Linked DNA regions of Homo sapiens: all the other regions are linked to region 3. Evidence: fine-mapped expression QTL. A gene starts in region 3. Each other region holds a variant in brackets. All regions are shown on one strand. Distances are from middle to middle.

Evidence for each region.
Region 1: its variant is fine-mapped to the expression of ATP6V1B2 in whole blood (TOPMed, PIP above 0.99).
Region 2: its variant is fine-mapped to the expression of ATP6V1B2 in whole blood (TOPMed, PIP above 0.99).

Annotation. Positions count from the first base shown.
Region 1 is chr8:19,694,782-19,705,454 of GRCh38, reverse strand. All of the region lies in intron 1 of CSGALNACT1 (chondroitin sulfate N-acetylgalactosaminyltransferase 1), which reads left to right. Among named protein-coding and RNA genes, the nearest start is that of CSGALNACT1-AS1, 22 kb to the right of the region's middle. The variant G/T (reference allele first, on the strand shown) is at 5,976.
Region 2 is chr8:20,163,841-20,174,513 of GRCh38, reverse strand. It overlaps SLC18A1 (solute carrier family 18 member A1), which reads left to right. Exons shown (of 16, transcript NM_003053.4): 5 at 70-153; 6 at 1,386-1,478; 7 at 3,020-3,109; 8 at 3,368-3,411; 9 at 9,407-9,467; 10 at 9,550-9,645. Among named protein-coding and RNA genes, the nearest start is that of SLC18A1, 14 kb to the left of the region's middle. RefSeq lists an enhancer at 8,925-10,124. The variant A/C (reference allele first, on the strand shown) is at 5,497.
Region 3 is chr8:20,191,378-20,201,819 of GRCh38, reverse strand. It overlaps ATP6V1B2 (ATPase H+ transporting V1 subunit B2), which reads right to left and starts at 4,439. Exons shown (of 14, transcript NM_001693.4): 1 at 4,278-4,439. The coding sequence starts at 4,413. RefSeq lists a silencer at 4,386-4,665.

The DNA of each region.
Region 1 (10,673 bases), 500 kb after region 3:
AGCCTTCCCTGGATTTTAAAATTCAAATGATGAGCTTTTTCCTTCTAAATATTATTCAAAAACATGTCATTGAATGGATGCATAAAAATGCATTAGAAAATAATTATTGAACATTTAAATTGTTTCCAGTTTTTCCCTGAGTTAATGGAATTCTTGATGTAAGTCTTTGCATAAATAGCTACCCTTGAGTTACTATCCTTAAGGTAGAATTACTGATTTACTTTCTATTTGTTTTTCCCCCAAGTTTATTGAAGTATAATTGGCAAAAATTACATACAGTTAAGGTGTACAATGTGATGCTTTGGTATATGTTGTGAAATGATTACCATAATCAAGCTAATTATCACCTCACATAGTACCTTTTTGTGGTGCAAATACTTAAGATCTACCCTCTTAGCACATTTTAAGTGGGCAATACGTGTATTAACTACAGTCACTATGATGTAGGTTACCAGAACTTATTCATCTTGTAATGGAAAGTTTGCATCATTTAAGCAAAATCTCCCCATTTCCCAACTCTGTTTTCACACAGTAACTACCCTTTTAGTCTGTTTGAGTTCAACTTTTAAAACTTCCATATTGAAATGAGATTGAGCAATGTTTTTCTTTCCATGTCTAGGTTGTTTCACTTAGCATAATGTCCTCCAGGTTCATCCTTGTTATCACAAATGGCAGGATTTTCTACTTTTTTAAGGTAAATAATATTCTGTTTTATGTATATATCACATTTTCTCCATCCATCCATCCATTTATCCACCCATCCATCCATCCATCCGTCTATGGGTACTTAAATTGTTTCCATATCTTATTGTGAATAATGCTGCAGTGAAAATAGTGCAGGTATCTCTTTGAAAAAGTGATTTTATTTCCTTGTGTATATACCCAGAAGTGAGAGTGCTGGATCATAGAGTAGTTCCATTTTTAATTTTTGAAGAACCTCAATACTGTTTTCCATAATGGCTATACCAATTTACACTCCTATCAACAATGTATATGGATTCCCTTTTCTCCAAGTCCTCGACAACACTTGATATTTTTGACTTTTTCATCACAGCCATCTTAAGGTGTGAAGTGATAGATGACTGTGGTTTTGATATGCAAGAAATTTATTTTTAAAAAGTATTAATGGTACTTTGGAAAAATTCAAAATTTCTTCTCCATCTAACAATATAATATCGGCCTGGAAGGGTCTGTGATTCAAATGCCCTGTTACCTTTCTTCTTTCTCCTTTGGCAGCACATTCGTTTAGTGCCTTGTTTTTCCAGGGACTGGGGGAAATGGAAGAGAGGAAAGGAGGGAGAGAAGAGAATAAGAATGATCCATGTAATTATGTAATTAACCATCAAGCTTGGTTAATTCAGAGCATTCTCATTCTTTCATTCATTCAAAACTTTAAAAAGTAAGATCTCCCATGTGCAGTGTAGTGTGTTAGGCTTACTGAGTGGGGCTGGAAGAGCAAATCAGACATAGATGATACCCTCAAGGGTCTGACAGCTCTCAGGAAAGATGTCACTGCCAGATATGCACCCGTACTATGTAAGAGGCTCCTGAGAGCTGCGTGTAGGATAAGGGAGGAAAGCCAGTGCATGGGCAGTTTCCTAAAAAACACTGTTAATTGTAACGTACTTTGTAGAGAACTAAACTTAATCACAAAAATTACTTGGTGTAGAATATGTTGTTCTGAGTGAATGAATCTGATAACTTTGTATCAATCAGGGAGACATGCAGACCATGAGAGGATTTCTTGTATTGATTAAACTTTGTTTTACTGTGGAAGGTGCTGTGCAGTCAGTAGTAACCAACTCTCCAGTTACCTGAAGGTCTGAGGAGCACTAAAAACAAAGAGAGGGCTGGGCATGGTGGCTCACACCCACCGGTAATCCCAGCACTTTGGGAGGCCCAGGCGGGTGGATCATGAGGTCAGGAGATCAAGACCATCCTGGCTAACATGGTGAAAACCTGTCTGTACTAAAAATACAGAAAATTAGCCGGGCTTGGTGGCAGGTGCCTGTAGTCCCAGCTACTCAGGAGGCTGAGGCAGGAGAATGGCATGAACCTGGAAGGCAGAGCTTGCAGTGAGCTGAGATCCCGCCGCTGCACTCTAGCCTGGGTGACAGAGTGAGATGGCGTCTCAAAACCAACCAACCAACAAACCAAGAGAGGTCAGCCTGTTCTTATTATGTAACAACTTCGAGTGGCTCAAATCCCAAGTCACATGCCACGTCAATGGCTCCTTCTGAACAAGGGCTGAGCTGCCATGGGTCTAGTTGAGAAGGAAAAGCTCTCGATTTCAGGGTCTTGGGTTATTTTGGTAATAGATCAGAAGACAGTAGCATCCTATTGGAGGGACACTAGTGAGCACTTCCCAATGACCTCCCTTCTTCCCCTGCCTCAGACATCCATAGGGTTACAGGTTTCCCTTTTGAGCTTGAATTCTGTCCACGGTGATCATGTTGATCAGATGAGATATAAAGGGAAGTGAACCCACACCAGGAAGGGGGCTAAGAGGGGTGTAGGGGAAGAAGTGGATCTAGTCATTGGCCCTGGTCTAAGTGGGGGCTACTGGGTGGGGGGCTGGGCTACACTGATTCCCTTTAGGGGAGACCCTGAAACCCAGAGCTTTTCCTTCTGCACTAGATCCATGGCAGCTCAGCCCTTGTCCAGAAGGAGTCATTGACATGGTATGTGACTTGAGTCTTGAGGACGAGGTCTGGTATAGACACATGGAACTGGGTGATGGATGGGAGAAGATGGGTGTCTGGCCAACAGAGCAGTCTGTGACAAGGACTGAGATGGAGCATTCCAGGTGCATGCAGGGGACAACCAGTGCTTAGTTTGGCTGGAGGGTTTTGCTTGGGAAGGGGAGTGCTGGAAAGGTGGGAAAGGGCTGGGAGCAGATGCAGGTTGAAGAATTTGAATTTTAAAAAATTAATTAAGTTTTTTTTTAGAGACATAGACCCTGACACCTAAACTGGAGTGCAGTGGTGTGATTATAGCTCACTGCAGCCTTCAACTCCTGGGCTGAATTGATCCTCCAGCCTCAGCCTCCCAAGTAGCTGGGACTACAGGTGTATCCTCAACTAATATTTAAATTTTAATTTTATTGTAGAGATGAGGTCTCACTATGTTGCCCAGGCTGGTCTCAGAAGGAATCCTTCTGCCTCAGCCTCCCAAAGCATTGGGATTACAGGTGTGAGCCATTGCACCTGGCCCAGAGTTTGGCTCTAGGGATCCACTGAATACCTTTGGGAAGGGCTGTGAGGGGCTCAGAGCTCCACTGTAGAGAGATTCATCTTGCAATGGTGGTGTGATGGATGGTGAAGAGGAGGGATCAGAAACAAGGGCATCTGTTAGGAGGCTATAATGATGGTTCAAGCAGTATTTAATGTAACAGGTAGGCACTTATGAAGCCAATCAAATGTTTGCCAGACCTGTAAGAATCTCAGTTCCTAAAGGAAATAATTCTCAAATAAAGGAGCAATTTGGGGATGGCATATAATAAGAATTTTCATTAATGAATCAACAAAGCTGCTTTAAGATGAGTATATCTGTGTTTATTCATTTGTGCAGTGTATATTAGTTTGTTCTACTTGATATTATCATCTTGTAGTGGTTAAAAGCATGGATTCTGGAACCAGATTGAGTGGATTGAAAGTCGAGTCTTACCACTTATTAGCCACAAGATCTTGGGTAAATTACTTAAACTTTCTGGGCTTCAGTACGTGACATGTAGGATGCGCTGCATAGATATTAACATTGTCATCATCATTATCCTTGTGATCATCGTCATCATTATCCAGTAACATTTATTCATAACTTAATTGTCTATGTAGGGTCTTTTCAGGATCTTAGGTGTACCCCTGAGGAATTGCATTTGGCTAAGAGTGACAGACCTTCCACTGTGTGGTCTTAAACTCCAAGGGTTAATTTTCAGAACATAACAAGAAGACTGGAGGTACACAGTTGCTGGCACTGCTTTGGTGTCTTAAGATATCAGAGTAGGCTTGGTGCAGTGGCTCACACCTGTAATCCTAGCACTTGGGGAGGCCAAGGTGGGCAGATCACTCAAGGTCAGGAGTTTGAGGCCAGCCTGGCCAACATGGTGAAACCCCTTGTCTACTAAAAATACAAAAATTAGCTTGGTGTGGTGGCACATCTGTAATCCTAGCTAGCCAGGAGGCTGAGGCACGAGAATTACTTGAACCTGGGAGGCTGAAGTTGCAGTGCATGGAGATCACCCCACTGCACTCCAGCCTGGGCAACAGAGTGAGACTCTGTATCAAAAAAAAAAAAAAAAAAAACGGATAATAGATGAACTGAAATTTTCTTGGTCTCCTTCCTTCATGAACTCAAGATGATTGCTGCAGCTCCAGCCATCATTTCTGTCTTGATGGCATAAGAGGGAAGGGTGGAAGGTCAGAAAGGCACCTGCAAGCTGAATAAGCTCTCTTTACATTCCTTCCTGCAAACCCCACCTAAGGACTTCCACTGACATTTCATTGGCTATCCCTGTTTTCAGTGGATATTGGGAAAGGTAATTTCTCCAAAAATTTTGCCCCCTTCAAAAATACAAATGTTCTGTTACTAAGAGAAAGGGAAGGATGGATATGATATGGGAAACTAGGGGCTACTGCCACACTGCAGGAAAGTGACCTCAAGGGTTTCAAAGAATTTTATAGAGGTTGATTGCCTTTTCTTGGACAGACAGATTTTGGTGGTCTATTTGTTTCATTTTTAGCATATGTTAAGATTTGCCTTTAAGAAGTTTGTTCAAGAGAGGAAGGACAATTACAGAAAGAGATAGGAACATCGGATGTTTTCAGTTCAATCAATTGTAGGTGCAGGGATAGAGGGAGAGACTTGGTTCACATTCATAGATACCACCATGGATCATGCACTAAGTCCTCCCTGATTAATGGTGAGGAAGGCTGTGTCATACGGTCCGTATCCTTTCTATCATATTTTCACCCATAACTACTTTGTCAATAATATAAAAACACCTTAGTACCATTATGAGAGGCATAAAAGGAAGGCTATTAGCCTGATTTTGTAGATAGGAAAGATCACTGGGCCAGGTTTATTAATAAGGAAGGACACCATGGCAACACATTATAATGACTTCCTAACCTCAAGTCACAGTCGAAGTTGAAAGCAAACCTGTGAGTGCTGTCTAGGAAGATCACACACCCGGAAATAGGAGGTTTGGTTTCTAGGCCCAGGTCTGCAGTAAACAATTTATATTACTAAAAAAAAAACCTGACTTAACATCATTGTGCCTTATTTCTTATTTTAAAATGGGAAATAATACTTACCTAAGTTTTTTTTTTTCTTTTTTTTTTTTTTGAGACGGAGTCTCACTCTGTTACCCAGGCTGGAGTGCAGTGGTGTGATCTCAGCTCACTGCAACCTCTGTCTCCTGGGTTCAAGTGATTCTCCTGCCTCAGCCTCCTGAGTAGCTGGGACTACAGGCACGCGCCACCATGCCCAGCTAAGTTTTGTATTTTTTAGTAGAGACAGGGTTTCATCATGTTGGCCAGGCTGGTCTCAAACTCCTGACTTCGTGATCTGTCCCCTCTTCGGCCTCCCAGAGGGCTGGGATTACAGGCTGAGCCACCGTGCCCAGCCCCTAAGTTCTTTTAAAAATTTTGATGAAATACACTGAACATAAAATTTACAGTGTTAACAGTGTTTAAGTGTACAATTCAGTGGCAATAGGTAGATTCACATTCTTTTGTAACCATCACTGCCATCCATTTCTAGAACTCTTCATCTTGCAAAATTGAAACTGTACCCATTAAACAAGAACTCCTGTTCCTCATTAACCATCTCCTGGCAACTGTAATTTTACTTTCTAGCTCAATGGACCTGACTACTTCAGGGACCTCATGTGAGTAACATCATATAATTTTTGCCCTTTAGTGATGGGCTTATTTTACTCAGCATCAGATCCTCATGGTTCACTTGTGTTATAGCTT[G/T]TTTCCAAATTTCCTTCCTTTTTAAGGCTGAGTAATATTCCACTTCATGATCAGAGCATTTTATGTATCTCTTCATTTGTTGATGGACAGTTGGGTTGTTTCCACCTTTTGGCTGTTGCAAATAATGCTACTATGAACATGGGTGTACAGAAATCTCTTTGAGATCCTGCTTTCAATTCTTTTGGGTATACACTTGGCCTTGTGGGTTCTGCATCTGTGGATTCAACCAACTGTGACCTGAAAATATTTGAAAAAATAAAACAAGAAAAATAGCAATGAGTCATTAAAAAACTAAAAATAAAAAACGAGGCTGGGCGCGGTGGCTCATGCCTGTAGTCCCAGCATGGGAGGCAAAGGCAGGCAGATTGCTTGAGTTTGAGACCAGACTGGGTAACATAGTGAGACCTCATCTCAAAAAAACAAAGCAAAAAAAAGAAAAAAAGAAAAAAGCAATACACTGCAACAATTATTTACATAGCCTTTACATTGCGTCAGGTATTATGAGTAATCTAGAGATGTTTAAAAAATAAGGGAGGATGTTCCTAGGTCACATGCAAATCCTATGGCATTTTATGGAAGAGACTTGTGCATTCAAGGATTTTGGTATCTGTGGGGAGTCCTGGAACCAGTCCCCCATAGATAATGAGGGATGATTGTATACTTAGAAGCAAAATTGCTGGATCATATGGTAAATCAATGATTTTTTTTTGTGGGTTATCCATTCTCTTTTCCATAGCAGCTGCACCATTTTGCATTCCTACCGGTGATTCACAAGAATTCCAATTTCTCCACATCTTTGCTAACACTTGTTATTTTCTGATCTTAAAAAAATAGTAGCCATCCTACTAAGTGTGAGGTACATAGGTAAGTTTTAAAGCAGTATCAGTAGTGCCTCCAGATTAACTTCTTTGAGAATCACTGCTCCTCTGCTTAATTCTTCGGCCTTATTGGGCAAGTTACCTTAGCCTGTGAGCCTCCGTGTCCTCTTCTGTACAATGTAAATGTCTGTAAAAAACAATTGTTATGGGTATTAATGAGATAGTAGCTTGTGCTATGTGCTTATTCAAATATTAGTTTATTTTCCCATGAGAGCAAAAGCATGAACAAGTGTGCATCGTATTCATAGTTAATATTCTCAATGTTCACAGCTGTTGGTTTCCTCCCATATCCTAACCCCAAACACAATGTTTCCAAAGTGTATGATGGAAAGAGCGTTGGTTCTGGGGCCAGAAGGCAAGGAACTGAAATCCAGCTTTCTGACTTTCTGGTTGAGGGACCTTGGACAAATTTCTTATTTTTTAAAAATCTGTATGAAGAGCATATCAAGGGGACCTCATGGGACTGCTTTGTCCAGTGACTTCTCCCTGCTTCCCCAGCAGCCTTCTCACTTCCCATTCACTCTTCAGCCCCCGCAGTGGAGCTCCCATGAATAACACTGTGACCCTTCTCACCATGACTTTCTAATTGACAAATCCGAGGATGCACTTACTTAACTTTTTGGCAGCATTTCAGTGTTTACTTCTCTATTCTTGATCTTCCTCCTTGCTTCCTGGGACACCATCTCTTTCCCCTTTCAATAGCTCTCTTTTGCAGTCGTATTTCTCACCCTCTTCTAATTCACGTTACCCTCTCTGGGTGGGACGTTACCCACCACCTCTCTCTAATGACCTTCCAATCTCTGTTTCTAGGCCTCTTTTTCTGAACTCCAGAGTCCTGTTTACCACTGCCTCTTGAGCTCCTTCAAGTCCACATGTCCCACAGTGGACTCATTGCCTCTGACTCTGCTCGGTCCCAGCAAGGGCCCTGAAGCCGCTGGACCCATAGCATGGAGCTTGCTGGGTACCTTGTACAGGGGGGCTCTGGGCTACTCACTCCCTCACTCCCCAGGTAGCATTTGGTCCAGTCTCTAGATTTTTCCAGCCATTTATCTTGCTTTTCTTCTGTTTTAGCTCTGCCCGGCCCTGAGATTTGGTGCCCAGTCATCTTACAAGGGTAGTGGCCAGACTTTCCCCAGGTGCTAATGTGACTTGTGGTTCTGTCTGGACATTTTCCCTGAACAGCCCCGTACTGTTCTTCTGCCTGAATTTCCATCATGATCAACCCCACTGTTCATCATCTGCCAAAGCCATAGACCTGGATGTCATTCTGGACTCCTTCTTGACCCTCTTGCTTGCAACCCTCAGTTCAGGGTCAGTAAGACCATGAAACTGCCTCTATGGCTCCCAAGTGCTTGCCTCTGATGTGTCTTCACTACCATTTTTCCTCTTCATGGTGGTCATCTCTCTCCATTGCTATTGCCTCTTATTTGGTCTCTTTGTCTCCATCCTTGCCTCTTTCTGGCCATCCTCCACTCTCCTGCTAGATCTGACAATGCTCTTACCTACTTGAAACTCACACTTCCCGTTCTTGTGGGAATAAAGGAGAAATTCCTATGGATGGCACACACAGGCCCTCTGCCATCTGTCCTTACCATCTTTACCTCCTGCCTTGCAACCCCTCACATGTCACTTTTGAGCTACACCAAATCACGTGGGGTTGCTTTTCATGCTAGTATTCATTGGCATGCACTGTTTTCTGCCTGGGAGGCTCTGCCTATACTTGTCTTTCTGGGAAATGCCCACTCAGCGTTTAAGATTCAGCACCATCTAAGCTTTCTCTGTAACAGTGAGAACAGTCGACACTGTGTGTGGTTCCTGTGTACCGACCCCCATTCTAGATGCCCCACATGAACTTGTGTGCTGAAGCCTTGCAACAGCCCTGTGTGGTACCTGTAGGTAGGCACCATTACTATCCCTCTCATTTAACAGTTGGGAAACTGAGGCATAGAGAGGCTGAATGTCTTGCTCGGAGTCACACAGCTAGCAAGTAGCAAGCTGCGGTCTGAAACTGGGGAGCCCCATTCTAGAGTTTGGGTTCATAACCACTGTAGCTACTGTGGTTTTTCAGCCACAGGTGGTTGCTTCCTCCTTGCACTTCCCTGCCCCCACTTCCCTTTATGTACATCTGCATCGTGGTGTTTCATATGCCCTGTTCCAATTATGTATTAAATGTTGTTCTCTCCTGCTAAACAGTGAGCCCCTTGAGGGAAGGCCTGCCTTTAATTCATGCTTATATCCCTGGAACGAAGAGTTGGTTGTTTTCAGTTGTTTGCATGACTTAAAAAAATATGACACACATTATCTTGCTTTACTGTAAGATGCTACAGTGGTGTTTGAGGCAAATTGCATAAAATGTAAGTTGGATTGGGGACAGAATCTTTTTCACATTGTCAAGTTCCCCAAAGTCCTGATGGCAGTAACCTAGACTGCTGGATGTCTAATTATTCATGATGTCCTGGAGAAAGGCAGAATTCAGCCATAGCCGTAAGCATTCCTGCCTATCCAATTTGTTTTTAAAAGACGATTTGTAGGACTATGTCTTCATACATGTTTTTGCTACTGGTCTTGGGTCTTTAAAGTTTTTAAAAATTTATATTCAGAGTGTTTTCCTGTTCATTTTTTATTTGATTAAGAAAGAACTATAAATAAACCTTAACAATACCATCGTTTTTCATGAGCGCTAATGGCTTTGTGACAGGATGATGGCTTGTGTAGTGTAGTGTTTGATTTTTTTTCTTCCTCCAATGTTGTTTGGCTGGATCATTTAGAAATATTACAAAATCTCCTGCGCTGAAGGAGAAAGCTTTTGACTCCTTTTTGACTCCACAAACTCTTAAACAACATGTGCATGATATCACATGAAAGCTTAGTAACTTTCGGAGGCCTTTCTAAATTACCCATGTTCCTTTGTCTTGACATTGTTGCTTTTCTCTTAAATTCACAATCTCTACTCCAATCTGCAGTACAGCCTCTAAAATGATGTTAGAAATCTAAACGCCATGTTTTTATTTCATCATGCTTTAATTTTACTTTGAATTAAAATATGCATTTCTTAGGTTATTTTCCTGGAGTCAATTGGAGCATTTTAGGCTTAGAAGGGATATTTGACAGTATTTAGTCCAACTTCCTTGTTATAGAAGGAAGAAGTTGAGGCCAGGAGAGAGATTGTGAAGTGCACTCTGGCCGCACAGCTAATTAGTGGCAGAGTAGAGATAAGACCCAGGATGAGACCCACAGGCTAAAATTTGCTATTTGAGTTATTTCCCCCTCATAGGCTTTCAGGAATGAAACCATCCAGAAATGAGTGGGAAGACCTAAGAAACGTCCACGTTTTATTTTTTTAATGAAGATCTTACAATTCAAATTATTTCCAGTTCTGTAGAAGCTTGAAATGAAGTCAGTGGTTTTAGGAAAATAATAACAATGCACTGTGAAAATATATTGAATTTCACATTGATGTGAAATTATGTAGGGAGATTTTGTTGGAGCTTAACATTATTGTGAACAATGTTGGGTGCTGTTCAAATACTAGAATCTCTCAGCATCCAAATACAAAGTGAGCAGAGGAGGAGTGAGCTGTAGATGGGGGGCCTGTGCTGCCTCATGACCCCTCAGCATCTGTCTCCGGGGCTTGTTGAATGGAAAGGGTCTGGGCCGTTTTGCAGACATGGGGCCTCTGTGTGCCATCTTTGCTGCAGAGGCAGCATGGAACAAACTTTTGGGGACCTTATGCATTAGTGCATTGGATCATTTTAGAAAATAACCTGCAGTATTGGACCTGTTTCTTTTCTTTCTTCTTTTTATTAATGTGCTTTACCTT
Region 2 (10,673 bases), 27 kb after region 3:
GTTCTCTGGCGGCTGGGGAAGCAAAGGCAATTTGCTAACTGCAGTTATCTTGCTATTCTCTCTGCCCAGTGTTTGCTTTTTCTGGGACCTATACTCTACTCTTTGTGGCCCGAACCCTTCAAGGCATTGGATCTTCATTTTCATCTGTTGCAGGTAACACTGGCAACTCATCATGCACACACACATGCAGGCATGCACACACACACATCTCTTACTACCTCAGATCCTATATTTACATGGAGAAATTAAGGAAAATGTCACCTGGATAGGTAGAAATTGTGATTCAGAAATAAGGGAATTGGGCTGGGCACAGTGGCTCACACCTGTAACCCCTGCACTTTGGGAAGCCAAGGCAGGAGGATAGCTTGATTCTAGGAGTCTGAGACCAACCCGGGCAGCCTGGGCAACATAGTGAGAGCCCTATTTCTATTAAAAAAAAGAGAGAATAAGTTAGCCAGGCATGGTGGTGTGCACCTGTGGTCCCAGCTACTTGGGAGGCTAAAGTGGGAGGATGGCTTGAGCTTGGGTGGTCAAGGCTGCAGTGAGCCATGATTGTGCCTCTGCACTTCAGCCTGGGTGACAGAGCTAGACCCTAACTCAAAAAAAAAAAAAAAAAAAGAAAGGAATTACAGAGTTTCTAACAGGGTCCATAGATCTCTGAGCCTGACATAACTTCCTCTGCTAATATTCAGATGCAGCTAGCTCAGGTCAGAGCAAGCCTCCAGTGAAGCTATGAAGAAGGGCAGGCTTTCATTTAGTGCCACTCTATGGTCCTTTTTCTGTCCCCCTCTTAGTACTTTATAGGAATAATCATGTTAGTACTACTGGTAACACCAGCACAGTTTTCAAAGTACTGGTGAATATAATATCTAATGCAATCTTATGAAGTTGGCATTTTATGCCATTTTACCCATAGCTATGAAGGCCAGAGGGTCCAGCTGCCGTACAGCACTAGCCCACACTTTCTTCCAGGTCTGCAGTGCTTTCCTGCTCTTCCCTGGGCACCCCTGTTAAATAGAATGGTCTCTGTGTGCCTAGATTTTCCTTTCCCTGATCTGCTCTGTAACCCCTCATTTTGGGAAATGTGCTAGGAAATGATAAAATGTTATGAAACATGGTATAATCAGACAATGGATTTTCTGTGTTATCCTTCCAGAGGGCTTGCACTATCAACAATATTCTGAACAGGAGTGGACAATGTGGGGGCTTGGGGGACTAGGGAGGGTAGTACTTGAAAAATACTACGGGTTAAGTTTTGTAAAACCCCTCAAACTGAAACTCTAGCTAAGATTGTCACTGAAGAGATAACAGGGTGGGACCAAGGGCTCTGAGAGGCGGATAGAAGCCCCCCAGGGGGCCAGCTGCATCTGTAACTCTCTGCGCAGGTCTTGGAATGCTGGCCAGTGTCTACACTGATGACCATGAGAGAGGACGAGCCATGGGAACTGCTCTGGGGGGCCTGGCCTTGGGGTTGCTGGGTAAGTGGCACCAGCTGGAGCTCTGGGTTCGGGAGGGTGGGACTCTAGGAAGCAGGTGTTCCCGAGGTGTAGAAGACGAGTATTTTCCTTCCCTTGTTGGCCTCATCCTATTTCAACTCCTTTAGAAATATCACTGAGAAAAGGTTAAATTTCCTTCTCCTTAAGAAGCTGGGAAACACATAAACGTCGGAGAAAGGTCCGGAAGCCCAGCCTGTTGGAGGAAGTGAGCCTCCCCGATTTAGAGGCCACTGCTTCGCCTCGGTTCCCATGCACACAGCACCAGAGCATGGCTGCTGCCAGATGCTCTGCTAAATCTGTTACACGCATAATCTCTTTTATTCCTCACCACCAGGAATGAAAGGAGGAATGATTTTCCCCATTATAGAGATGAAAATAAGAATGGCGAAAACACCATCCAACATCACACAGCTAGGAAACGCCACAGCCAGGATACAGACTCCGATTTTCTGGGCTTGGAAACCCAAGCCCCAAACGATAAAACTACCCTTTCTTTGAGGCTCCTCCCTCATACAACTTAATTGACAAGCTACATGCTTTCACTTATTACATGCCAAGCACAGTGCCAGTACTGTAGGGTGGGAAGCCCCAGGCATAGTTCCTGCCCTCTAGGAGCTTACAAGCTCATCGAAAACAAAACACCTGAAATTTCTTCCCCGGCCTATGCCCCACCCTCTAGCCCCATGGGAAGCAGAGGAAACAGAATCCCTGTTATTTGCTAGTATCCATCAACCCAAATGCCCAAGCTAAACCCTGTGCATCTTGAAATCCTTTATCATGTCCCAAATGAATAAGCTCCCAAATGAACAAGCTTGTTAGATCCTCAACAGCCACTCCTGGCTCCTTGTCACTTCTGGGTTAGAATCTGGCAGCATCCTCCCTCTTGTGTACTCCCTCCTTCCACCACGATGCTGCCTGAACAATCTTCCTGAGCCCAGAGCAGGTGATGTTTCTCACCTGATGTTTCTCCATAGGCCGCAAGGCCAAGTACATGACTCATCTGCATATACAAGGTTCCTGCATATGCAAGGCTCTACTTTTCTCCTCGCAAATATTCATACTCTGCTAACACCCGCTTTCTTCTTTTTCTTCTCCAACTACACACTCTTTTCTGACACCTCTGTGTTCTTCACACAAGCTTCTTCCCCTCCAGATACTCTACACTTGGCAAAGCCCTCGTGGCTGCCTGAAATTCCTGAGACATTGACTGTGCTTTCATTGCATGCAACATTTTACTGTCAAACTTTCACCATGCTTTAATTATCTGTGTCCCTCCCTACACACACACACACATACATACACACACGCGCGCGCACACACACACACACACACACACTTCCTCCACTAGAAAGTGGGCTTGATGGGGACAGGGATCATGTCTCCATCTCTGAATTCCCAGAGCCTCAGGTGGAGCTTAGCCCCTAGCAGGCCTTCTGCAAATGCTCACGGGGTAAATATGGATAATTCTCACTGCAAAGGACTCACCCTCACCTCTGGAATCTGTGTCTCCTATGCCTCTCCAGTGGGAGCTCCCTTTGGAAGTGTAATGTACGAGTTTGTTGGGAAGTCTGCACCCTTCCTCATCCTGGCCTTCCTGGCACTACTGGATGGAGGTAAGTCACCATCAGAGCCTCCAGCAGGTGACAGCCCAGGTCAGGTTGGGAATGCATTATGTTGTAGTGTCAGTCTTCACTAAGAATGGGCGGTTTGGACATGTTTTGATGGATCAAGGACTGCCCCGTTGTAGAAAAGAAAGAAGAAACTCAGGGAGTTAAATTTATGCATAATAGGGTGGTAGCACTACAGCTGTTATTGGAGCCCCCAGCTAATCAGTAGACACGCTGAACTGTCTCACCTTCTTTGTTTCTTAGCACTCCAGCTTTGCATCCTACAGCCTTCCAAAGTCTCTCCTGAGGTAAGCAGACACAAAGCTCCATTTCTAACAGTTATACAGGATGGCTGAATGCAGGAACCCAGGCATGCCTGCCAAACCATAAGAAGAAAAGTGAAGAGGAATAGGGTCAGCGAAAGTGAGAACTGTGTTTGGATTCCAGGATAGGGTTACGTTTCAGGTAGTGTGGGGGATAGTGACGTATTTGGCTTGATGTTGGACAAAGATGGTGGAAGAACCTTGTGCATAATCAAAGAAGCCATAGAGAATCTATCTATCTATCTATCTATATATTCGACACATATATGGGGTATGTATATATATATTCATGTATATCTGGAGATCTCCATATATATATATATATGTGCACACACACATGTAATTATAGCTAGGAGATAATGACATTGGGGACTGAGTATTTGGAGCTGTAACATCATCTCAGAGATGAAGGCTGTGGGGGCCACCTAGACAACATCTTCTGCAATAAAAGACATCCTGTGTGAATATCCCTAACTGTCATTCTGTCACAGTTAATAAATATCAGAGTTGGTACTTGTTTGACTCTAAGCCAAAAACAGCTCTGGAAAATCCATATCCCACCACGAAGGAAAAAAAGTAAGAAAGTGCATCAAGTGTAAAAATGTTTGATCTAAAGGCCTTGACTTTGCATTCCACAGCTTGTCAAGGTATTCCGGAAGTCATGACACTAACACCTCATCATTCTTCAGGGCTTTTCACGCACCAGGAGCTCAGCTTAGTGCGCCATCTATGCTGCATCTTACACATTCCATGAAATAAGTACAATTTTTAGCCTCACTCTACAGATAATGAAATCGAGGGTGAACAGAGAAGCATCTGAAAGAATTTGAAACTATGACATAATCAATACTTTTAGAGTGCCAATTCCCCCAGAGCAACTAGGAGCCTCCCGCAGTCTCCTGAGATGCTCTGCTCTTTACAGACTGGCTTTAGGAGTAGGATGTCTGGGTCCTGGAGAGGGAAGTCATAACCACCACCCATCCAGGACTCCTCAGGGCAAGGAGCACCAAATACCCTCTGCACAGGCTCCCAGGCCTGGCATATGCTTGGGCCCAGCACCCCTCCAGCCCTGGCCCAGGCGTAGGGACACTCATCCAGGTGGTTCAGCCACTGTTTATTATTAACTGTGCAGCAGTGGTGAATTACTCAGCAAGTAAATCCAGCTTGAGATTCCAGGAAAGTGAGGCACCCATAAATATCTACTTTTTTGAGACGGAGTCTTGCTCTGTCACCCAGGCTGGAGTACAGTGGGGCGATCTCGGCTCACTGCAACCTCTGCCTCCTAGGTTCAAATGATTCTCCTGTGTCAGCCTCCCAAGTAGCTGGGATTACAAGCACGCACCACCATGCCCAGCTAATTTTTATGTTTTTAGTAGAGACAGGATTTCACCATGTTGGCCAGGCTGGTCTCGAACTCCTGAGCTCAAGTGATCCATCCGCCTCAGCCTCCCAAAGTGCTGGGATTGTAGGCATGAGCCACCGCACCCAGCCCATTCTCTCTCTTTCTAACAAATATACATTATTATTATTATTACTAATGTTTTGAGCCAGTTGACAGTAGATTGATTGTATCGTTCCCTTACCCCTTGATACTTTAGAGCATTTTCCCTAAGAACAGGATTTTTTTTTATGTAATGTCAATGGAGCTATCAAATTCAGGAAATTTAACATGGATATAATACTTTAGTCTAATTTGCCGTGCCTACTCTGATTGTGTCAATTATTCCGATAATGTCTTCCATGGAAGTCTTTTTTTCTCTAATGCAAAGCCCAGTCCATGACTGTGTAAGACATTTATGCATCACACCTCTCTAGCCTCTTTTAATCTGGAAAAGTTCTCAGCCTTTATCTTTCATGACATTGACATTTGTGACAATTATCTATAGGGTATTCCTAAATTTGGTTTGTCTGATGTTTCTTCATGATACCGTAGCCTTCTGAGTTTCATGTCTGGAGGTATTTAATGCCCGTCGCCTCTCAGTGGTGATGTCCATTTTGATCACTGGGTCAAGGTGTTGTCTGGGTCTCTTGTGTAGTAATTACTTCTTCACCTTGTAACTAATATATAAC[A/C]TGTGGGAGATGTTGTAAAGTCATATAAATCTCCTACTCCTCCTTAAATTTCCTTTCTGCCTAGATTTGTTATCCATTGATGATTCTTGACTGACCCAATCTTTACTATAATGTTTACAAAATACTGGTTTTTCTAGTTCACCAATTCATCCAAATCATCAGTTGGCACTTTGCTGTAAGGAATAGCCATTCCTCCAAGGCAGGCGGATCACTTGAGACCAGGAGTTTGAGACCAGCCTGGCCAACATGGCAAAACCCTGTCTCTGCTAAAAGTACAAAAAAATTAGCTGGGCATGGTGGTGCACACCGTAATCCCAGCTACTCAGGAGGCTGAGGCAATAGAATCCCTTGAACCTAGGAGGCGGAGGTTGCAGTAAGCCACTGCACTCCAGCCTGGGTGACAAAGTAAGACTCTGTCTCAAAAAAAATACTCTAAAAAACAAAAAAGCAATAGCCATTCCTTTCTTACTCTCTTTATATGTATATATTTATAAATATTTATACCAAATAGGTATATAATAATTTTATGTACATGTGATTATGTTCACAAAAAACTTAAAAAACATTTATTTATCTGATATTATCAGTGTAGAATCATGGAGTCCTATTTTTGTAGTTCATCACTCTATTTACTTGTTTAATTTTTTTTTGGAGACAGGGCCTCTTTCTGTGACTGAGGCTGGAGTGTAGAGGTGTGATCATGGCTCACTGTAGCCTCCAACTCTTGGGTTCAAGTGACCCTCTTGCCTCAGCTTCTTGAGTAGCTGAGACTACACAGGCATGCCACCACACCCAGCTTAACTTTTTATAGAGACCGGGTCTGCCTGTGTTGCCCAGGCTGGCCTTGAACTCCTGGCCTCCCGTCCTTAATTATTTTGATGCTCAAATTGTCCTAGATTTGACAAGTCAAAGCCCATTAACTTGTTGCTGTGTCATTTTAACATACCTTCATTGTTTTTTGAGTAATGTTTTACTTTTCGATACAAAAATATGTCCTACGTTCATCTTGTACTTTCCCTGCCTCAGCCCTGAATTCATTTCCCCAAGGAGCCCAGGTTCTTGTTAGTAGGGAATGGTGTTTAGAAACCAAACTATGGGGCCGGGCACGGTGGTTCACGCCTGTAATCCCAGCAGTTTGGGAGGCCGAGGCAGGCGGATCATGAGGTCAGGAGATTGAGACCATCCTGGCTAACACAGTGAAATCCCGTCTCTACTAAAAATACAAAAAAATGAGCCAGGCGTGGCGGTGGGTGCCTGTAGTCCCAGCTACTCAGGAGGCTGAGGCAGGAGAATGGCATGAACCCAGGAGGAGGAGCTTGCAGTGAGCCAAGATCATGCCACTGCACTCCAGTCTGGGCTACAGAGCAAGACTCTGTCTCAAAAAAACAAAAAAAACAAAAAAAACAAAAAACTATGGGGACTCAATGTGCTCTTTGCCATTGGGGTCACCTTGTTTCCCTGCCATCTTGATGACAGAGCTAATACACACACACAAGTTTGTACTGAGACCTCCACTTCCAGCCCAACTCCACGGGATTTTTCCCTGCTTGCCCCATTCCATACATGTATTCTTCTTTCAAAGTAAGAAATTTGTCTCCCCCTATTATACAAATAGGTGAAACACCTATTTTACAAATAGATTAAAAAATTTACTTACTTGTATAATTCTATAATACTTACCCATGCCATTATAAAAAACAAAGCTACCAAGAAATATTCAAGACTTTTCAGTTCTTTTTCCCTTAGACTTAATGAATATAGCCAAATACTGTATCTAGAAATTACCGTACTTCCATTAGTTCTTTTTTCCACCTTTAGTGTGATTATGTAATGCATGATACATTTGAAATTCATTTGCATCCATTTGTGGGGTTTTTTTTTTTTGGCATTTAGTTTTAGTTTTTTTTCTCCATTCTGGCTAATTATCTTAGTCTGTTCAAGATGCCAGAACAAAATACTACAGATTGGGTAGCTTAAACAACACATATTTATTTTCTCACGACTCTGGAGGCTGAACGTCCATGGTCAAGGTACTGTTGAGGGTTGGTTTCTGGTGAGGCCTCTCTTCCTGGCTTGCAGACAGCCACCTTCTCAGTGCGTCCTCACATGGCCTTTACTCAGTGTGCATGCACAGAGGAAGAGAGCCCTGATGTCCCTTCCTCTTTTTATAAGGAAAACAGTTTTTCAGATTAGAGCCCCCACTCTTATGACCTCATTTAACCTTAATTACCTCCCTGAAGATACTGTCTCCAAACACAGTCATATTAGGTTAGGACTTCAACATACTAATTTGACTAAGGTGGGGGGACTCCATTCAGCCCATAACACTAATATAATTTATTTTTTTAATATATAGGACATTACCACCTAAAAGTCAAAATTATTCCAAAAGGTGTACTCAGAAAGTGTCAATCCCTCCAGTCTTTCTAACCCTCCCCCTCTCCCACCCCTACCACTCATAGGTAACCAATTTTAATGCCTTCTGGTTTGTCTTTCCTGTGTCTTAGTGTTTTTTCCTCAAAATAAATCGCTTATGTGTTTTCTTATTTTTCCCTTTTCTATTATATGAAAGGCAGCACACTATGTATTCTTTTTTTTGCGTTCTCCTTTTTTTCTCAATAATATGTCCTGAAAATTACTCTACTAGTTCACAGAATCTTTCCTTATTATTTTCCACCTGGTGGTGTATATATATATATATATATATATATATATATATATATATATAGACACACACACACCCACACACAATTTTGTATGTGTACACAATAGTGTGTGCGCCATATTTTATTCCATCTCCTATGTTTAGGTAGTTTTCAGTATTTTATAGTTATAAATAGTGCTGTAATTTGCATGACTGCATGTTTATAATGTTGTCATTAATCTTTAGAGTCAATTCCTAGAAGTGGGACTGTTGGGTCAAAGGGTTTATTGTACTTTTAAATGTATATTTTAATGATTTACATCAGTTTCTTTACTTCGAATAATAATTGGGTAAGCGAATGATCTCTTTAGTTTTAGGATCTCTAAATTTATCAATCCACTATTGTGTGTGTGCAGAGAGGGTTATCATACCAAAATGATCCAATCTATTACAAGATAGAAAGTAGTAAACACCATGAAGGATTAGGACATAGTGTTCAGGATGTCTGGAAGAGAGAGAAGCCCCAGCTACTGAGTCAGGGAGCTCTCTAGAAAAGAAGGAGCCATTTAAGCTTGACTTTAAAGAGTGGGTAGAACATGGAACTATGGAGAAGCTCAGAACGTGTAGTTTAGGCAAAGGCAATAATGATGGCTGAGGCACTGCTGGGATGCTTGGAAAGAGGGTGGGGCGACCAAGTTTAGATGAGAGTGTGTCCTGACGAGAGTGGGTCCTGGATGTTTAGGCTGTATTTTAACCCTGCTTCTTCTACCTTAGTTCAGTGTGGCTCAAAATGATCAGAATGAAGAATTCAGAAAGCTTGAGAGGCTTTCTGAGTTATGGCTTCTGTGCTTGCTTTTGGGATTCGGTGCTCTGCCTGTGGTTCTCCCAGGACAAATATTAGTACCAGGGAGATCTAGTGGAAACCAGGAGTCCAGACATCTATTGTCCAACCCTGACCTTGCTACCAATCCACTCTGACCTTGTTGATGGTCACGTGAACGCAGGAACCATGGCTGGAATATGTTGCTTCTCTATCTGTGACTATTACAGTGCCTACCTTTCACACAGGAGGGGTCCTGCCTCCAGCTTCCTCTGTGGCATCAGACAAGTCACTTTCTCTCCCTGTACTGGGGTTCCTGGTCTCTGCAGTAAAGGAGATACTGTAGATGGTCTCTAAGCCCATAATTGTACTTTCTCAGATTCTGTGAAAATAGGAGAGATGTATGCACTGTACAAATGGACATTTTTTGTTATCCATGTTCTCAGAGTGCCAAGGGGACTCCCCTCTTTATGCTTCTCAAAGACCCTTACATCCTGGTGGCTGCAGGTAAGCTGGCGATGACCTCCCATTGGGCGGGGAGTGTCTGGGCTTCAAGCAGCCACGGCTGCTCACAGAACAGTCTCCCCAGGGTCCATCTGCTTTGCCAACATGGGGGTGGCCATCCTGGAGCCCACACTGCCCATCTGGATGATGCAGACCATGTGCTCCCCCAAGTGGCAGCTGGGTAAGTGACCTCAGCACCCCCGCTCAGGGCCTGGCAGGAGGAGGTGGGTGCCATGAGTCCTTTCGTTCAATGTCACACAGGGACAACATGCTTCCTTTGTAGAATGACCTCCCACGTCCACACCCATGAATCAAGCCCAAGAGGGTGTGTGGTCCCTCAGAGAAGCAGTCTGAGAAAGGGGAGGGTGAGAGAGGATGAAAGGGGCTATGGAGAGGTCACATACCTAGCTGTGTAGTAGGATGATTAATGATTTCCAGTCCAAAGATTCAGGTTTTGGTTTCAGCTCCTTTGATTTTCTGTGAAAACTTGTGCAGATGCCTTAAACCCTCTGAGCATCACTTTTCTCATTGCTAAAATGAGCATCAAAATACTATCTAGTTCAAGAGAAATTGGATGAATAAATGACATATGAGGTGAAAATGCTTTGTACCCTGTACAATATTAATGTGCACCATTACCATCCACATTCTCCTCCCTTCAGCTCCTCATCCTCAAGACTACCCTTTGGTTATCTTTTTTACCTCTAAAAAGGGGTGTATGTAGCACTCACTTAGGAAAAGCTATGGGCCCAGGAGAGAGGGTTCCAGCTTCCTTTGTTCATGCAGCGACTTAGAGAGGAGCTTGGAGAGGAGGATCTAGCCCTTCCCAGGAACCCTGAGGAAAGAGGACAGGGAAGGCTACGTGCAAATTGCTCCATCACTGCAGGGAGGAGAGGCTTACGGGGCCAGAGGGGAAGCTGATAAGAACATGATATAGTTCAGCATGCAATAAAAAGCACTAAATCTAATTTTGGGGGGGCAATTCTAAGCAAGACTCCCAGCTGCACTCCTAGTGCCAAATTGAATTTTTATGGGTTGCAAGTGCTTTTGACCATGACGATTAATTGAGTTAGTCGGTATTCAGTGCAGATAATTCATCGCCTGCCCTAAGGCTCTGACCACTCAGGGTCTCGATACTAGTGAGCAGCTACAACACAGAGCAGCTCCTCCCCAGCAGCCTAGGGACCATTCTCAGTTGCCAGTTACCAA
Region 3 (10,442 bases):
CAGACTCCAGAACTTTAAGAAATAAATTCCCTTTCTTTATAAATTACCCAGTTTCAGGTTTTCTGTTAAAAGGAGCAGAAAATGGCTAAGACAGTAGGCAAGGCTGATGCACCCTAAGGAAACTAAGGCCCTGATAAGTTTGTTTTTAAATGGGGGAGCCAGGCTTCTAACTGTTTTGTTTTTCTTTAATCTTAGGATTGGTACTCTATGACCCTTATAATATTTCTGGCCTTAGTCTTCAGTACAATTAAAAAGTATGGAGATCATACAGCTTCTAGCACTTGGACTACAAGTGGGGACAAAAAGACAATTTGTATAAAACTACAGCTCTTCTCCATGGTACTAAAACTATCTGCAAAGAAAACCAAGCAGAATGATAACAAACACTACCTTTTATCTCTAGATTTATCCAGCCTTCCTCACCATTACCATTAACAGCCCAAAACAGAGATACCAGTTTAAACTATGGCTGTCAAAGACATTAAGTTGCCCTTCAAAACAGGAAAAAACCCATTTGTAAATTACCTAAATATTTCTATTTACCTACATATTGACCACTCCTCTCCAAATGAAAAAGAATTTGAGCCCGTAGGTGTGTGAATGGGGGATAATCAGAACTTCTGACAACACAGAAGATATATGCTTATATTACCTTCTTAACATATTTTACAACCAAAATGTCTTGGCTTTGATTCTGAACTATCATATGAGCCAGACAAGTATTTATGAAGTAACATCTAAAACCCAAAATCTACACGGGTTTTAAGGAGCACATATTTTATCAGATGACATCCTCTTCCTCCTGCAGGATAGGATATTGCTCAACACTAGTAACACCATTTAATGATTACGAAATACTCAGAAAAAGTTGACAGCCATTGCATAATAAGTGTCCTAGTCTTTTAGCCTCTGCCTTATTAGCAAAACAAAAACCCAGAGCAATCATCTTCCCTTGTACAAGAAGAGTAGAGATCTGCATGATGAGCAGTGAGCACCTGAAGAAGAGGTTCTAGGAAAAAAGCAAGGAGAAGATTCCTATTTTGACTTTTTGCAGGGCTGGCTCTGCTTTATGATATAAGAAACTTAAGGCCAGTTGATCTAGGGTCTCAAGAAAAATGGAGATGACCAAATTCAAAATACATAGCACCCGAAAGCTCTATGTATGTTGTTGAATCTTTTCTTTTAAGAGAAAATCAAGTTTTCATTCCTTGTGACTTCAGAAATTCAACTAAAATGCTCAAGATAATTTCCTAATTTCAAGCCTGAATATGTTTTCCATTTCTTTTAAAAGTCCTATAATCTTGAAGCTATTTTTTAAAAGGATCTAATTTGTACAGTGGAACTGTCAACATTACTCCATTTCTTCATTCAAAAAACAAAGCTTTTTGAGTTTAAATGCAAGTTACACAATTACAAGGCACATTCTATGTGTCAGGCACTGTGCTAGGCAGTGGGGACACAAAAAGGATCTCTGACTTCTAAAGGTTCAGTGTGAAGCTTTAGGCTGGGCACAGCAGCTCACACCTGTAATCCCAGCACTTTGAGAGGCCATGGCGGGCGGATCTCTTGAGCTCAGGAGTTGTAGACCAGCCTGGGCAACATGGGGAAATCCCATCTCTACCAAAAATAAAAAATAAAAATTAAAAAAAATTAGCTGGACGTAGTGGTGTCCGTCTGTAGTCCCAGATACTTGAGAGGCTGAGGTGGGAGGATCGCTTGAGCCTGAGATGTGGAGGTTGCAGTGACCTGAGCTCACACCACTGCACTCCAGCCTAGGCAACAGAGTGAGACCCTGTCTCAACACACACACACACACACACACACAATAACTATAATTACATGTCCCCTTAAATGATAACATCAATCAATTCACAAAAAATTACAATCAATTTACAAAAATTAAGAGGTTGGCTGGGCGTGGTGGCTCATGCCTGTTATCCCAGCACTTTGGGAGGCCTAGGTAGGCGGATTGCCTGAGCTCAGGAGTTCGCCACCAGCCTGGGAAACACGGTGAAATCCCGTCTCTACTAAAATACAAAAAATTAGCCGGGCATGGCGGCGTGCGCCCGTAGTCCCAGCTACTCGAAAGGCTGACGCAGGAGAATTGCTCGAATCTGGAAGGCGGAGGTTGCAGCGAGCCTAGATCGCGCCACTCTGCACTCCAGCCTGGGTGACAGAGCGAGACTCCATCTCAAAAAAAAAAAAAAAAAAAAAACCCACAAAAATTAAGAGGTTAATCAATATTTACTCAGAAGCAATTAAAACTTTTGAGTAGAATAAAAAATATGGCAAAATAAGAAGATATTCAAATGCTGTTAGTTGTTAGCCTAAGTATGATATCATTTATGCTTTTTAGAATAACACGGATATATAAGTGAAACTCAACTCGACCGGGCATTTCAACTCCCTGCTCTGATTCCACCCATGTTCACAATCTATCCACTGAATTATTCGAGCAAGGAGTTTAAATGCAAGTTACACAATTACAAGACACATTCTATGTGTCAGGCACTGTGCTAGGCAGTGGGGACATAAAAAGGATCCCTGACATCTAACAGTTGAGTGTGAAGCCCTATGCTACAACAGTTTTGTCAAGAATAACGTCTGGAAAAATCCCTCAGCAACTGGGTAAGTACGTACAAACCATGGAGAAATCATATTCATCTCTCTTAAAGGTTTACAATCTTAATCATGGAGTACTCTTTAAACAACGTTATTTCAGTTGATATTCTCTGAATTGACACTGAATGATTAATTATATGGAAACTGACTACTGCACCTTTATAACCTTTTTTGAGAGGCACCACTAATGTCTATCTGTTCTACCCAAAGAAAGGCAATGCATACAAACGCAATTAATAAAAGAGAATTTGTAATTCGTAGGTATAAATTTATTGCCAAGGTTTGCATAAGAATGCAACATCTGCCGATTTCCTGAAGTAGCTACTTCAGCTCAGATAAGTCCCAACATACATTTTCTAATTCGAACAATTCCCAGTTACTGTAAAAGGCACATCTCAGCAATCCACCGAATCAAATGTTTTCCTTTTTCTTCACACTGCAGTGCTATCACATGACCCAGTGACAGATCAGGATGTGGATTAGTCAGGCTTCAGATCGCCCAGACTAACACCCTTCATCTGAAATCCTTTTTAATCAGTCGGCCACCTAGAGACAGACACTCTGGCAATTAACCAGTGAAAATGCAGTCTCACCACCTGGGGAAACATCATGTGCTTTTCCCAGTTTTTTAAAAAGTCTATTTCGAGGGCTCATTGCCAGTTCCGAAGAAAGCTGTGAAGAAGTTGGATGCTACACAACTGCATTCTCTAGTAATCAAGAACCATTTCTTTTGGAATTGCTGAGCTATCCACTTAAACCTAGTTCATTAAGGCCTTTTTATTTAAAAAATCACAACATTTAAACAAGCCTATGCACACACACCACCTATGGGCAAAGCCACCTGGCTTCCCCAAAGAACCCTGCACTCAACCAAGTTTGGTTAACTGGTCAGTAAATGAAGAGGCAACGGTAGAAAAAGGCCCAGCGAGAATTTAAGAACCTGGATTTTTAGTCCCTGCTCTGCCAATAATTAAGTGTCTGAAGCATGGCAAATCCTACCCCTTCCAGAACCTTAGGCTTCTCACCTGTAAAATGATAGGGTTGGACTGGATGACCTGCAAGGTACTTTTCAGCTCTAGCGTTCTCTGATATCTAGGTGTCCTTCTGCGGAGCAGCCCCTCCACCAAACACCAAGCCACATCTCCCTCTGGCTACTGGCCTGACCTCCATCCACGAAAGGCCTGACCACGTCAGCGAAGGCTCTACCGTCTGCCCTCCGCAGGAGTTGAAGACCCCATTGAGGTCCTCACCAGGGGGAGGGGAGAAGGGGCGTTCCCTCGACCCCTAGATATCCAAATGAAGTCAGGGGAAGATTAAGATCGGAGTGGCAAGAAGTGGCCCTCGGGGACGGGAAGCAAGTGCCTAAGAAGGCTCCAGCCTAGGGAAGCTGGGGAGGGGAGGGGGTAGGGCAACAGCCAGGAGCCCACCAACCCCAGGAAAAAGTTCCCGCTGGTGCTCTTGCCCTCAGCCCATCTCCTGGAAATATTAGGTACAGGCAAATCTCCTTCTAAAGAGACAAGTGGGTCAGGGTCGGAGGGGAGACGCGGGAGGGAAAAACAAATCCTACCCCCTACCCGCTGGCTAAGCAGGTGACTGGGAGCAAAGGGCTAGGCTAGGGAGCAAAGACCGGAGACGTATTACTCTCTGATACTCACTGAGGCGAGGCTGGGAGAGGTAGTTCCGACTGACTGCCAGCGCCTGCTCCCGAGCTCCCACCGCCGGCCCACCGGTGGGCACGGGTAGCTCGGGTGCGGCCCCGTTGACAATCCCCCGCATCGCCCGCAGCGCCATCTTGTCTCCTCTGTCCCGACTGGCCCAGCAGCGACGCCGCGCACGCGCAGATATACCAAGGCGGCCCGCGGCCCGAGGCTCCGCCTATGCGCGCTGCGGCGCCCCGGCCTCGCCCCGCCCCCTTCGCCGCCGGCCGCCCCCAGCCTCGTGACTTCGCGCCGCTGGGGCCAGACCTGCTTGCGAGCAAGAGGAGCTGACCAGCGTGCTGGGAGGCGCGCGCGGGCGCAGAGGGAAGGGAAGCGAAAGAGGGGAGATGGAAGGAGAGAGGAAAGCCAGCCGAAAGAGAGGCGCACAAGCGGAGTGAGGGGAGGAAGGCAAACGCGTGCAGGCCAACGTCAGCTGATATCCATTTCGAATGGGCTTTCGTGACGCTGAATGGAGAGAACTCAAGCTGTGAAAACCGCTTTGAAAAACAGAAGCAATGGAAAACATGTTTCAGTGATTATTAACACATGTGGCATCATTTAGTTCACTTTACTCCCTACCCAATTCGTTCACGCATGTATCCATTCGACAAACATATATTGGCTTGTTATAGGATGTGCGTAGCGGTGTGAAAAATAGGGGCAGATTTGGAAGCTGTGTAAGGGGTGGGACTAGTGTAGGATGACAGCCCAGGCTGGAGGCCGGAGCAATGGAATGGATTCTTCTTCTTCTTCTTCTTCTTCTTTTGAGAGGGAGTCTCATTCTGTCGCCCAGACTGGAGTGCAGTGGCGTAATCACGGCTTACTGCAACTTCCGCCTCCCGGGTTCAAGCGATTCTCCTGCTTCAGCCTCCTAAGTAGCTGGGATTACAGGTGCCCACCGCCACGCCCGGCTAATTTTTGTTTTTAGTAGAGACGAGGTTCTACCATGTTGGCCAGGCTGGTCGCGAACTCCTGACATCAATTGATCCCGCCGTCTTGGCATCCCAAAATGTTGGGATTACAGGCGTTAGCCACTGCACCCAGAAGATTATAATTTTTAAGTTTAACTAATGTCCAAAGTTGGCACGTGTAAAATTAAACAGGAATTGTAATACTTTACTGATAAGAGCACAATTGGTATGATATTTAGAAGAACAATTTGGTGATATCTCATTCAAATATTTTGGTACTAGGAACTTATCGTTCTCTCTCTCTGTAGATATATCTGTATCTATCTATCCACTCAGTGTATGTGACAAATATTTTCCATTATATATAATACATTACGTCATGCACCATATGGTATATATTATTATATATGGTCTACAGACATATACATGTATATATACATACACACAGATATTCAAAAAAAATTTTTGTAATAGCATAAACCTAGAAACAATCTAAATGCCCATTCATAAGTTATAGCCTATTAAGTCAAAGGTATTTCTCAAACTTTTGAAAAGAATTCAGTGGAGGCTCAAGGGTTGAGTTTTTTTTTTTAAAAAAAGTCCAAGACACATTATTAGGTTTAAAATAAAAAAGCAATTGCAAAATGCCATGTAAAGTAGATTAACATGTGAACAGTAGGAGAAATTTTATTTTTAATTTAATAATCTTTCTATGTAGTTTCACTGCTTTAACAGGTGTTTGTACTGATTTTTTCAAATACAATGCATAACAACTTTTTTAATAAAAATTACAAATCTAGTCTTCTCATGCCAATTTTTCACAATGGTAGGTAAATTTCATATGTGAATATCAGACTGTTAGTTGTTACAATTTTTATGTTATTCTTTTAGGAGTAGTTCATGGCTTTTACTTTAAAAAAAACCTGTTTTTAACTTTTTACTCTGGTAATAGAAATTAGTTGTGGTCTAATGTGTATACGTAGAGTGGTAACCCCAACATTTATTTAACAAACATCTGTTGAGAAAATGCACATGTGTATCGGGTGCTGATCTAAGTCCTGGAGATATATTTGTAAATAAACAAAGACTCTGTCATCCTGATACCTGTTGGAGGGAGAAAGTCAGAAAACAAACATGTAAATAAAGTGCCTGGTAGTGTCAAGTATGATGAAAAATAATAAAACAAGATAAAGAGAAAAGAGTGATCTAGACGAAGATAAGATTTTAGATGATGTGATCAGGGAATGCACTTCTCAGTCATCTGAGATCTGAATGGAGAGAGAAAGCAGATCATGGGAAGCTCTAAGAGATGTGTGGCATAGGCAGAGGGTTTTGCAAGTGCCAAGGTCCTGAGGCAGAAGAAGGAAAGTGGGGCTAGAATGGACACAGCTAAGCAGAGAGCAGCAGGAGAGAGGGCAGGGCCAGATCATGTACAGCTTTGGAGGCTATGCAGATAGCAGTTCGAATTATATTCTTAGAGTGATTGTAGAATTTTATGAAGGAGGAATATGATCTGATTAGGCTTTAAAGAGGCATGTTGTTCTACTGGGCAAAATATGAACTGGTGAAGAAGGCAAGAGAAAAATGGAGAGACCAGTTAGGAAGCTATTGTGATTGTCTGGGTGAGCAACATGGACTCAAACCAGATGATGGCTTTCCTACATAGCACGCTGGCCTTAGCTCTGTCACAGAGCTCATCGCAATAATGATATCATTAAAAAGTGGCCATTTATATCTTTCTCCTGCACTTTTCCATTCTGTAACCTCAGATATGGAATGGGGGATTGGCAAGGGGGATGTGGAGCACAGTGCAGCTGGGAGAAATATTTCAAATGAAAAAAACAATGATAGAGATAAGTCCAAGATTGCTGTAAAACAGGGATTATTAACTTGGCACCCTAGGAAGTCGGTGAAACGTTGTGCAAAATGTGTGCATATGGATATTTTCCGTGGAAATAACCCACAGATTTCTATCACATTGTCAAAGGAGCCTGAAACTCTTAAAGAAAACCACCAAGTAAGCATCACTGACAAATTGGGAGAGTGGTATTGCCATTTATGGAATCACAAGTGTTTAATCAAATTGCCACATGGTTGTGTCAGATAGTTGGTATCACTTGACACCGTCTCTAACTTCTCAGACAACTACATTTTTAAAAATTGTGTAATTTATTTGGATCTTACGATGGTACCTGTGCAAAGCGCAGGTAACCCAAAACTGTTAGTCAACTGAAATTCAGAGTTTCTTAGAATTATTTATAGCAATATTATATAAATGCTTTTCCTTGGGTTTAAAAAAATTATCCCCTTAATATGCAAGAAGGAAAAGGATAAATGAAGTGTTATATACATAGAAAAATACATTTAGGAAAATATAGAAAAGTTTTAGTTTCTCTAGTAATGAAGAAATTCAAACTAAGCATCACCGTTCCACCTTATCTGTTAAATTAAGAAAACTGAATGATTTTTTTTAAGTGTTGGCAGGATTCGGGGCTAAGTGTCGCACCAGCTCATTTCTGATGACTTTGGAAATTGGCCAGACCTTCTGCAAAGCAACCTGGTATAGGTTAGGGATCATAAACTTGTTCACGCACTTTGATCCAATAATTTGATTCCATGATCTCAATGATATGATTATTAACCAAAGGAATAAATGTTTATAGCTTGTTATGGCAATGCTATTCATCAGAGTGAAAGTGAAATAGTAACCTAAATATCCCATAATAGTAAACTGCACCAGTAGTGTATATTTAATAGATACTGACATGAATATGATATATAGCTGGTGGAATTCAAGTATTTGAACTCTTTATACCAAATAATATTGAGTGAAAGCTTAGCACAGATATAGACCAGTTGCAGTAGTGTAGAACATGTTTGTACATTGGTAAAAAGCAGGAAATTGTGCATTGATGCCAATAATTGATGCTGCAATTTGGAGAGAAAAATCTTTTTCTCTTCTGAAATGTGTATTAAATATCCAAAAGTCACATATACTCACACAGAGAGAGTATCAGCTGGAGGTGGGGGGGCTTGCACAGTTTTAAGGGTAAGAGGTGCTAAAACAAACTAAATATGGCCCGAGAAGGACTCTGTACTTCTATATTTGAGTCCTTGTGGATGAACTGCAACCTAACTTAATAGGTAGACAAAATTGAAAACCTAACTAGGAGTTTGCGCCTGTAACAGTAGCTGAGTCTTGGCCCATCCCAGCAGTGGTACTTCAGCTACTCATACACTGCTGAGTGTTCAAACTGTGTTCAAATAAGGCAAACACTGAGCTGTAACCAATCTAGCTCTATCTGTGCTTCACTTCTGATTTCTGTAGGTCACTTCCCTTTTTTATCTATAAATTTGTTCTGACCACGAGGCATCCCTGGAGTCTCTCTGAATCTGCTGTGATTCTGGGGGCTGCCTGATTCACAAATCATTCACTGCTCAATTAAACACCTTTAAATTTAATTCAGCTGAAGTTTTTCTTCTATCAGGGGCTTGGGGCATGGACTCTGAGGTCAGACAGACTTAGTTTAAGTCCTGAGTTGATTAGTTCTATGACTTTGAACAAAATTTATTCTCTCTAATCCTCACTTTTCTAGTTTATAAAATGAGAATAATATTATCTTCATAAAATTATTGTATTAAAAGAGATAATGCAAAGTATTTGGCAAATAGCAAAGGCTAGATATGGCTTAGCTAACATTATTATTACATGCTTTGATTTATTGATTAACAGAATATTTATGTGTTAATTAATATGTGTCAGGCTCTTCTTTTTTTTTTTTTTTTTTTTAGACGTATTCTTGCTCTTGTCAGCCAGGGTGGAGTACAATGGCATGATCTCGGCTCACTGCCATCTGCGCCTCCTGGGTTCAAGCGATTTTCCTGCCTCAGCCTGCCGAGTAACTGGGATTACAGGTGCCTGCCACCACCCAGCTAATTTTTGTATTTTTAGTAGAGACGGGGTTTCACCATGTTGGCCAGGCTGGTCTTGAACTCCTGACCTCGCGATCCGCTCACCTCAGCCTCCCAAAGTGCTGGAATTACAGGTGTGAGCCACCATGCCTGGCTGTGTCAGGCTCTTTTCTAAGAAAGAAATGATATGGCTCCTGGACTAGTTGAGTAGTTTGTATTAAGCAGCGACTGTATCTTATCATTTTCTTGTCTTCTATCTAAAGTACCTAGCAAGGTAACTTACACATAGTACTTAGTAAATATCTATTAGATAAATGAAAATGTGTTGCTTTTTTCTTAAAAATGAACAGTTGTCCACCAATCTTATTCTTCCATACGGAGGGTTCCCCGCCCCCCGCCAAGGAAGAGTCATCCTACAGATATTGTATACTGGCTATTGTCCTCCTGTTATTTGCTGAAACCATATCCTTGTTTTACTTCCAAGGAATGCAAAAATCCCAGGAATTCCCCAGCAGTAGGGAATGTGGTCAAAACATGAGACTCAGAATCACCAGCCCAGTTTCAGTGCTGACTGTCTCCTTATGCACAGTGTAACCTTGGGCCAATCCTCAACTCCTTCTGTCTTTGAATCTCCATCTGTGAGTTGGGAAGATTTCATGTCATGCCGGCTTCTCAAGAATTTAAAAAGAAGCTTCCAGAAATCAACATCTTAGATAGAAAGGCAAACTCTTATTCTTTTATTACAAATGATTATTGGGGAAGAAAAATAGAGAAGAAAGGGGTAAGAAAATCTCATGCCAGTGACTGATTTTTTTCCAGATAATGTGTATCTCTCTTTATTTGCTGGAAAATTCTAATCAAGGAAAATACTATGAAGACAAACCACAACAGATTAAATAAACAGACCTATGTGTTTCTATGTAGCAAGGCATATACCAATATAAAATCATCAGTACAACATTTTCAGCATAAGATGGGAGAGGAAGCTAATTAATTATTTATATATTTTATTATTGGTTTTTTTTGCTTTTGTTTTTGTTTTTTTTGTTTGTTTTTTTCAGTCAGAGTCTTGCTCTGTCGCCCAGGCTGGAGTGCAGTGGCATGATCTCAGCTCACTGCAACCTCCACCTCCCGGGTTCAAGCGATTGTCATGCTTCAGTCTCCTTAGTAGCTGGGATTATAGGTGCCCACCACCACACCCAGCTAATTTTTGTATTTTTGGTAGAGACAGGGTTTCTCCCTGTTGGCCAGGCTGGTCTCCAAATGCTGATCTCAGGTGATCCACCCACCTCAGCCTCCC